Homo sapiens: one gene and its partner. The protein of the gene in region 2 purifies or fractionates together with the protein of the main gene of each other region. This does not show direct contact. Each region holds a gene or a part of one and is shown on either strand. Other genes may lie near its edges. The genes, in order: KCTD15 and KCTD19.

Evidence for each region.
Region 1: the proteins of KCTD19 (region 2) and KCTD15 purify together in Homo sapiens (affinity purification with mass spectrometry; one large-scale study listed by BioGRID and IntAct). This does not show direct contact.

Annotation. Positions count from the first base shown.
Region 1 is NC_000019.10:33,799,769-33,803,578, forward strand, and holds part of KCTD15 (BTB/POZ domain-containing protein KCTD15), read left to right. Parts: intron 1-659; 5' UTR 660-686; coding exon 687-752; intron 753-1,398; coding exon 1,399-1,574; intron 1,575-3,810. UniProt on the Homo sapiens protein: During embryonic development, it is involved in neural crest formation. Inhibits AP2 transcriptional activity by interaction with its activation domain.
Region 2 is NC_000016.10:67,306,239-67,310,048, forward strand, and holds part of KCTD19 (BTB/POZ domain-containing protein KCTD19), read right to left. Parts: intron 1-3,810. UniProt on the Homo sapiens protein: Transcription regulator which is essential for male fertility and for the completion of meiotic prophase in spermatocytes. Regulates progression of the pachytene stage of meiotic prophase and promotes the transcriptional activation activity ZNF541.

The DNA of each region.
Region 1 (3,810 bases), on a different chromosome or scaffold from region 2:
CTGGGAGTCTGGGGAGAAACTGTGAGGTACAGACTAGGCAAACAAAGACAGGTTTTCTCTGCTATTGGGAGCCACAGAGAAGAGGCGGCTTCCCAAGTGACTTGCCCTCATCCATGTGCCTGGACTTCTGCTGAACGGCTTCCCTGTGTCTGGCCAGATGCAAGCTGTATCTTATCACCATGGGGATGGTATTAAGAGAGGTCCTAGGTTCCCTGGCCCATGGAGGGTGAGGGGTGCTTTCTGAGCCTTGGTCCACAAGGCTGTTGCAAGAGGAGACACGCTTGGTAACATGGCTTGAAAGGAAAATACCAGGAAAATCTGGTTTGTTCTGAAATATTTTGGGGCAATAATGGTGAGCATATGTTTCAGTGCTGTCATTAGCCGAATTAGCAGACATGGAGCTGCCCAGAAAACACATGTGTGAGTGTGACTGTGTGTGTGTGCATGTATGTGTGTGTCATCTGCTACAGCCTGGAGGCCTGCTTTGGGGTGTGGAGACAGATAGAGAGATAGTGGCGGTGGAGTCAATCAGGGAGGGCTGCATGGACCTCGCAGGGTCTCAGAGAGCATGCAGAAAGGACAATTCTAAGTGTCTTTGACCCCATGGTACATGACTAGGAGGAATAAGCCTTCTCTGGTTTTGTCGATGCCTCCCGCAGATACTCTGGGCAGGGATGGAAGCCTAGATGCCTCACCGCAAGGAGCGGCCGAGCGGGTCCTCGCTTCACACACACGGCAGCACCGGCACCGCGGTGAGCCTGCAGGGTGGGCTGGGTCCCTGCCGGGAGTTCCCTCTTTCCCTTCTTCCCCAGTGCCTGTTTACTGGCTGTCCTTCCTTGGGACCATGACACTCCAGGTGGCTGTTGACTGGCTGTAGGATTATGTATTTTTGAAACAAAAATGCTCTTAATTTGATGTGAAATTTACTACATGTATAAAACTCAACGCCTTAGGTGCTGAGGAAGTCACTAATTTAGAGGTGTCTCGTTACTGAGACAAACTTGCAAAAAACCCCTGAATCCCAATTCACAAATTGGTGATTCGTTTGTCAGGGGATATTTCACATCTAACACATAAGCCCACGACCTTTAATTAGAATTTTGCAGTTTGTTTTATGCCCCTGGAGGCTGACACCTTGAAAAATTTTTTTTCTTGATTTCTTATTGCTAATAAGCATCTTTCTTTTTCCCTCTGGTACTTTGAAGAAAATGATGCAAATACACTTAATTACAGTGGTGGCCATAATTTGTCAGCTGAATATATGATCAGGCACGGGCAGAAGTGATCTGATTAGATCTGTGATCACACTCTCAATAAAGGGAGTGCATGGCTGTGTTGTGGAGAAACTCTTGTGTTCCGCTTTGAAACTCTTGTGTTCCGCTTTGTTTCCATCTCTAGGAGGGAGGAAACATGTCCCGGCTGTCTCTCACCCGGTCGCCTGTGTCTCCCCTGGCTGCCCAGGGCATCCCCCTGCCAGCCCAGCTCACCAAGTCCAATGCACCTGTGCACATCGATGTGGGCGGCCACATGTACACCAGCAGCCTGGCCACGCTCACCAAGTACCCTGACTCCAGGTAAGAGTAAGCCCCTTGAAACATCAGGCATGTGTGGGTCAGGGCAGCATCTGTAATCTGCTGCCTAGGGGGTGGGGTCTCTCCCCACTGTCACTCCACCCACCAGGGTCTCCAGGGTGCACAAGCTGACACAGCCTGAGGGAGCTAGGGTTGGGGAGTCCAAGTCTGCCTGTTGAAAGCTGCTATGCACAGAGGCTTGTGACCCTGACTTGGCGGCATTGGTAGTGCAAGGTGGAGCTCCTGACCCACCTGCAGGGGACTAGGGCTTATTCAGAGCCAGCCCAGCCTGAGCCTGCCGGCAGCGGGCAGGGGAGTCTCACGTACCTTCAAGGTTCCTCTGGAGGGAGACTTAGGCCCGGCCCCTGCAGGGGGTCATTTGTGAGTGATACTGAGTAGGTAAGTCTTGGGGGCATGGGGGTGGGTATTTAATCCTATTTTCTATTCCACCCCTGGGAAATTCACAAGGGGAGGGAAGAGGAGCTGTGGTGAGCTGCAGTGTGCCATCTTTGTCATTTTCCGTGGCCACTGCTGGGCCCTAGAGGCTAGCAGCAGGCTTCCCTTGGAGCTGGTGCTGCAGTGACTAGCTAGGAATGAATCACATACCTCATCAGTGGATAAAGGGTCTCTGGCCAGGACCCTGGTTGGGGGCTCACAGGCACCCTCCATGCTGCTGAACTTATAGGCTGCCCAGGCCCTTGGGCCTGCGAGAGGTTTGGGGTGCTGGGTGCTGCCAGCTCTCCTGCTCTTCCTTGCAGGGTGTTTCTCTCCTGGGTGAGGGACCTGCTTTCCCCGTTGGCACGGCAGCAGGGCTGACCCGAGTAGGGTGGGTCTTGAGCAGCTTGCTCAGCCGAGGATGTTTGCTCCTGGCACAGAGAGGCGGTCATCGCTCCCCTGGGGCTGCTGAAGGCTGAGCGTGGGAGGGCCAAGGCTGTGGGCATCACCCCTGTGTTATGCATTTGAAATAACAGGAGGAGTTAATTAATCCCCCAGATACTGAGGGATCATCTCTGGGGAGCATACACGGCAGGCTGCATTGTCACCGGTGTGGTTCCTCAGAGCAGGGAGGATGGTAGTGCGCAGAGGTGGCTTTCCAAGCCTGTTGGGGCTGCAGGGGAGCCTGTGCAGGTGCAGGCATGGTCCCTTGAGGAGGAAAAACTGGAAATGGGTGCAGTGTCTAGTTCCAAATTTGGAGAGTCTAGGGTACAGATGGTGACTGGTGTTCCAGTACCCCAGGTGGACAGAGACTCAGCCTGGGGCCCTGTGGCCTTGGGGCTTGTGGGGTGGGGACAAGAGCCACGGGGCCAGGTCAGCAGTGTTGGCCTGTGTGCTCACTCACAGAGCCCTGTCTAGGATGGGAGATAGATTCTGCTTATTTAATTTCCATTTTGCCTTCTGCGGCATTTCTGAGTTGTTTGAGATAGATCATCCCTTAATCGGTTGACGACGTTTGTGAGTGAAATTCATAAAACCTTTGCCCACAACCCTCTCTGAAGAGTTTCCTGAAATCAGAGAGTTGCCTGTCTGGAGTAATCACAGCCCAGGCCCTGGGGGAGGCGGGTGGGAGAGGCTTCTCATTCTGGGCTCTTGGCTGCTGCCTGAGAGCAGGAGGGCAGGGGGCCATCTCCCCCCACCCAGCCCCACTGTGCTGCTCACCCATTGCTTTGTTCTGCTGTGGGATGTGCTCTCATGGGGAGCTAGGGCCCCTGTGGCCCTGTGATCTGGCACTTGGGACCCTCCTGGTGTGCCCAAGGGGTGGCAGTCTATGTTTATTCTTCCCCAGGGCTGGGGCTCAAGGTGAATCTGTTGTTCTGCCTGGATGGCCTCTGGCTGCTGTGGGGGTGCTCTGTAGGCCTGAAGCTTTGGACTAGAGGCCAGGGATGGCTGACCTGCAGGACAATCAGGGGACAGGAGGCCAGGGGGCCTGAGAAGTGGGTCAGGCAGCTGTGCTGGCAAGAGCCCCTCAGATCTCTCTTGTCCTTCCTGTAGTGGATTATTATAATATAAGCAGTTTTCTACCAATTCTGGAAAAAATCAATCTCACCTAGTGTCACTGATCTAGGAGACACCTGGAGATGGAGGACTAAGAGTGCTGTGGTCCTCAGGGGGTTTCTGGATGGTGAAGATGACCTGCCCTAGGCAGCATTGTAAAAGCTGGGACCTCTACCCTCGGCTCCCCTGAGAACTCTGCCTGAGCCTCTGGGTCTCGGCGGTTGGGGTGGCCTGGGTGCTGGAGAGT
Region 2 (3,810 bases):
GACCTCCAGGAACCCTGGGATTTCTTTCCACAGCATTAGAAGGGAACATTAGAGTCTCGCTCTGTCACCCAGGCTGGAGTGCAGTGGTGCAATCTCGGCTCACTGCAACCTCCGCCTCCTGGGTTCAAGTGATTCTCCTGCCTTAGCCTCCCGAGTACCTGGGATTACAGGTGCCCACCACCATGCCTGGCTAATTTTTGGATTTCTAGTAGAGATGGGGTTTCACCATGTTGGCCAGGCTGGTCTCAAACTCCTGGCCTCAAATGATCCACCAGCCTCGGCTGGTGCTGGGATTATAGGCGTGAGCCACCGTGCCCGTCCTGCCTCTCCATTTTCTCTCCTTTCCTTTCCCCTAGTCCTGGTCCCCTAGCCCCCAGGTCCTCTCCACACAGTGATCTTGCAAACATATGAGGTGAGTCCAAATCACTCCTCATCTTAAAAAACTTTAGTGCTTCCTGTTGCTATGGGATAAATCCAGACTCTCCTTTGCATTGCACATAGGGTCCTTCACAATCAATGGAGGGAGTAGGGTATACACGAAAAGAACAAGGGCTTTGAACTCAGCATATCTGGGGTAAATTCTGACTCTGTCACTTAAAAGCTAACATTTATTACCCATGGACTTTTAAACTGAATCCTTCCAATCTTCCCCTGACAACAAAGTAGGCTCTGGTATCATCACTCCCTTTGAGCACATGGGAAGCTAGGTCCAGGAAGAGGTAGGGGACTAAGTGCACCAAGTAAGTGGAGATACTAGGAATGAAACCCAGGACTCTGGAGCCCAAGCCCTTAGCAACTGTTTTCTTTTTATTGATATGTAATAGTTGTTCATATTTTTGGGGTACATGTGATATTTCAATACATGGATACAATGTATAATGATTAATTTAGGGTAATGAAGATATCCATCACGTCATTTTTTTTTTTTGAGACAGAGTCACACTCTATCACCTAGGCTGGAGTGCAGTGGCATGATCACAGCTCACTGCAGCCTTGACCTACTGGGCTCAACTGATCCTCCCACCTCACCCTCCTGAGTAGCTGGGACCACAGGTGCACATCACAACACCCTGCTAATTTTTTTTTTTTTTTTGAGACAAGGTCTCACTCTGTTGCCCAGGCTGGAGGGCAGTGGCCCAATCTTGACTTACTGCAACCTCCGCCTCCCAGGCTCAGGTGATCCTCCCACCTCAGCCTCCCAAACAGCTGGGACCACAGGCGTGCACCACCACACCTGGCTAATTTTTTTGTATTTTTAGTAGAGGTGGGGTTTCGCCACATTGCCCTGGCTGGTCTCAAACTCCTGGACTCAAGTGATCGGCCTGCTTCAGCCTCCCAAAGTACTGGGATTGCAGGCATGAGCCACCACGCCTGGCCGACAGCCAGCTAAGTTTTAAGTTTTTTGTAAAGACAGGGCTTTGCCATGTTGCCCAGGCTGGTCTTGAACTCCTGGGCTCAAGCGATCCTCCCATATTGGCCTCCTGGGATTATAGGCATGAACCACTGGGCCAGACCCATCACCTCAAACATTTATCTTTTCTTTGTGATGGAAACATTCCAATGATTTTCTTCTAGCTAGTTTGAAATACACAATATATTATTATTAACTATAGTATTCCTAGCGTACTACCAAATACAAGAACTTATTCCTTTTATCTGACTGTAATTTTGTACCCATTATCCAAATTCTCTTCATCTCCTTCCCTCCCCCTACTTTTCCCAGCCTCTGCTGCCTTCCACTTGTCATGTAACTTCTCCAAGCCTCAGGTTCCTCACTGGCAAAGTGGAGGCAGTAAAATCTGGAAGCTGTTGTAAAGATTAAATGAAATAGTATGTTAATTTCCTTCCTTTTGGAGGTCATATCCTAAATTTCTTCCTTCCTTCCTTCCTCCCTCCCTCCCATCCTCCCTCCTTCCTTCCTTCTTTCTTTTCTTTTTTTTTTTTTTTAGTGCCTTGCTGTGTCGCCCAAGCTGGAGTGCAGTCGTACAATCATCATGGCTCATTGCAGCCTTGACCTCTTGGGCTTAAACAATCCTCCTGCCTCAACCTCCCAAGTAGCTGGACCACAGCTGTGCGCCGCAACACCCCATTAACTTTTTGATTTTTTGTAGAGATGAGGTCTTGCTATGTGGCCCAGGCTGGTCTCAAACTCCTTAGCTTAAATGATCCTCCCACCTCGGCCTCCCAAAGTGTTGGGATTACAGGCATGAGCCACTGCGCCCAGCCTAAATTACCTTTCCAGCCTCATTTCCCATCATTCTTTATGTTTACACCCCATCATCAGTGACACTAAACTCCACAAAACTCCAAAAACACATCACGTTCTTTGACACCTCCCCAGCTTTGTGTACGCTGTTCCATCTGCCCAGAATACTCCTCCCCATTCTCTTCCTGAAGAGCCTGGAGCCTCTCTGAGCCAGAATGGGTCATCCCCCCACTTTGTTCCCACAGACACTCAACACTTTCACTTCTCTCTGCAGGCCTCTGGCTCAGTTTCAGGCCAGTTCTTCCCCCTATACCAAGCTTCCTGGGGAGAGGCTGGTTTGATGCATCCCCATTTTGTGTTCTAGAACCTAGCATGCATATGAAAGAATGCATGAAAATGGAGGGCTAGCCAGGTGCGGTGGCTCACACCTGTAATCCCAGCACTTTGGGAGGCCGAGCTGGGCCGATCACTTGAGGTCAGGAGTTTGAGACGAGCCTGGCCAACATGGCAAAACCCCAACTCTACTAAATATACAAAAAATTAGCCGGGCTTGGTGGTGCATGCCTGTAGTCCCAGCTACTCTGGAGGCTGAGGCAATCATTTGAACCCAGGAGGCAGAGGTTTCAGTAAGCCGAGATCATGCCACTGCACTCAAGCCTAGGAGACAGAGCGAGACTTCAGCTCAAAAAAAAAAAAAAAAGAAAAAAGAAAGAAAGAAAGAAAAGGAAGGGCTGGAGGGCTGATTCTCTGCAAAGAAAAGCAAAAAGAAACATGGGAGATCTCCAAAGAAGCGAACAGAGAAGTAGACTGCACTCATAAAACTGAGAAAGATGGAAAGACATTGAGTATCCAAAACCACAGGAAAAACCAGCACAAGATTACAATGGGCAGAGCCTATGGAGTTCAGAGGACAATGAAGACAGGGATTCCACGTTGGGATCTGGAGGCCAGAGGGAAGACCTAACGGGGAGAGGGACAGGGATGAAGGAGAGGGAGAGAGGATGGCAAGAAGAAAGGGTTTAGCTTGGGTCTGATTTGTGATGGACAGAAAGACAGTAGGCAAAGTAGCAAGAAAAGAGTGAAACTAGGGAAAGTCAGCTAGGGCAGCGTAGCACTCCAAGCCCATGCTCAGTGGACTGCATCACAGGAGCTTGAATCTGCCACTTACTTCACCTACAGATTCAACCCCCAAGATTCTGTCTTAGTGGAGAAAATAATAGTGCCTTTGAACAACTCTAAATTGGCCACGTGGGAGAAGGCCTGTGGTGGGGAGAAGGGGAGAGAAATCCCTGCCCAGGACAACACTCCTATTTGGAGGTGTTTGGTACTGGATGTGTCCTCTGGAATGGGTCAGTAGTGACAGTCTAGCTAGTTTGAGAGGAGATGTGCTAGTTGAGGAGAGAATGATCTATTTTGCAGAAATGAAATCTCCATTTCCTGCTATTTCCAAGCATGTAAAGTGTTAGCAGCACCATTTTCCCCAAGAAAGGTATGCCCAAGAAATCTTAAAAAAGAGAAAAACTAAAGCAAGTCCACAAAGATTGCCATCCTTGCCAGTCAGGTCATGCTGCAGGCCAGGCCCAGGCATCGGCCTTGACCTAGGC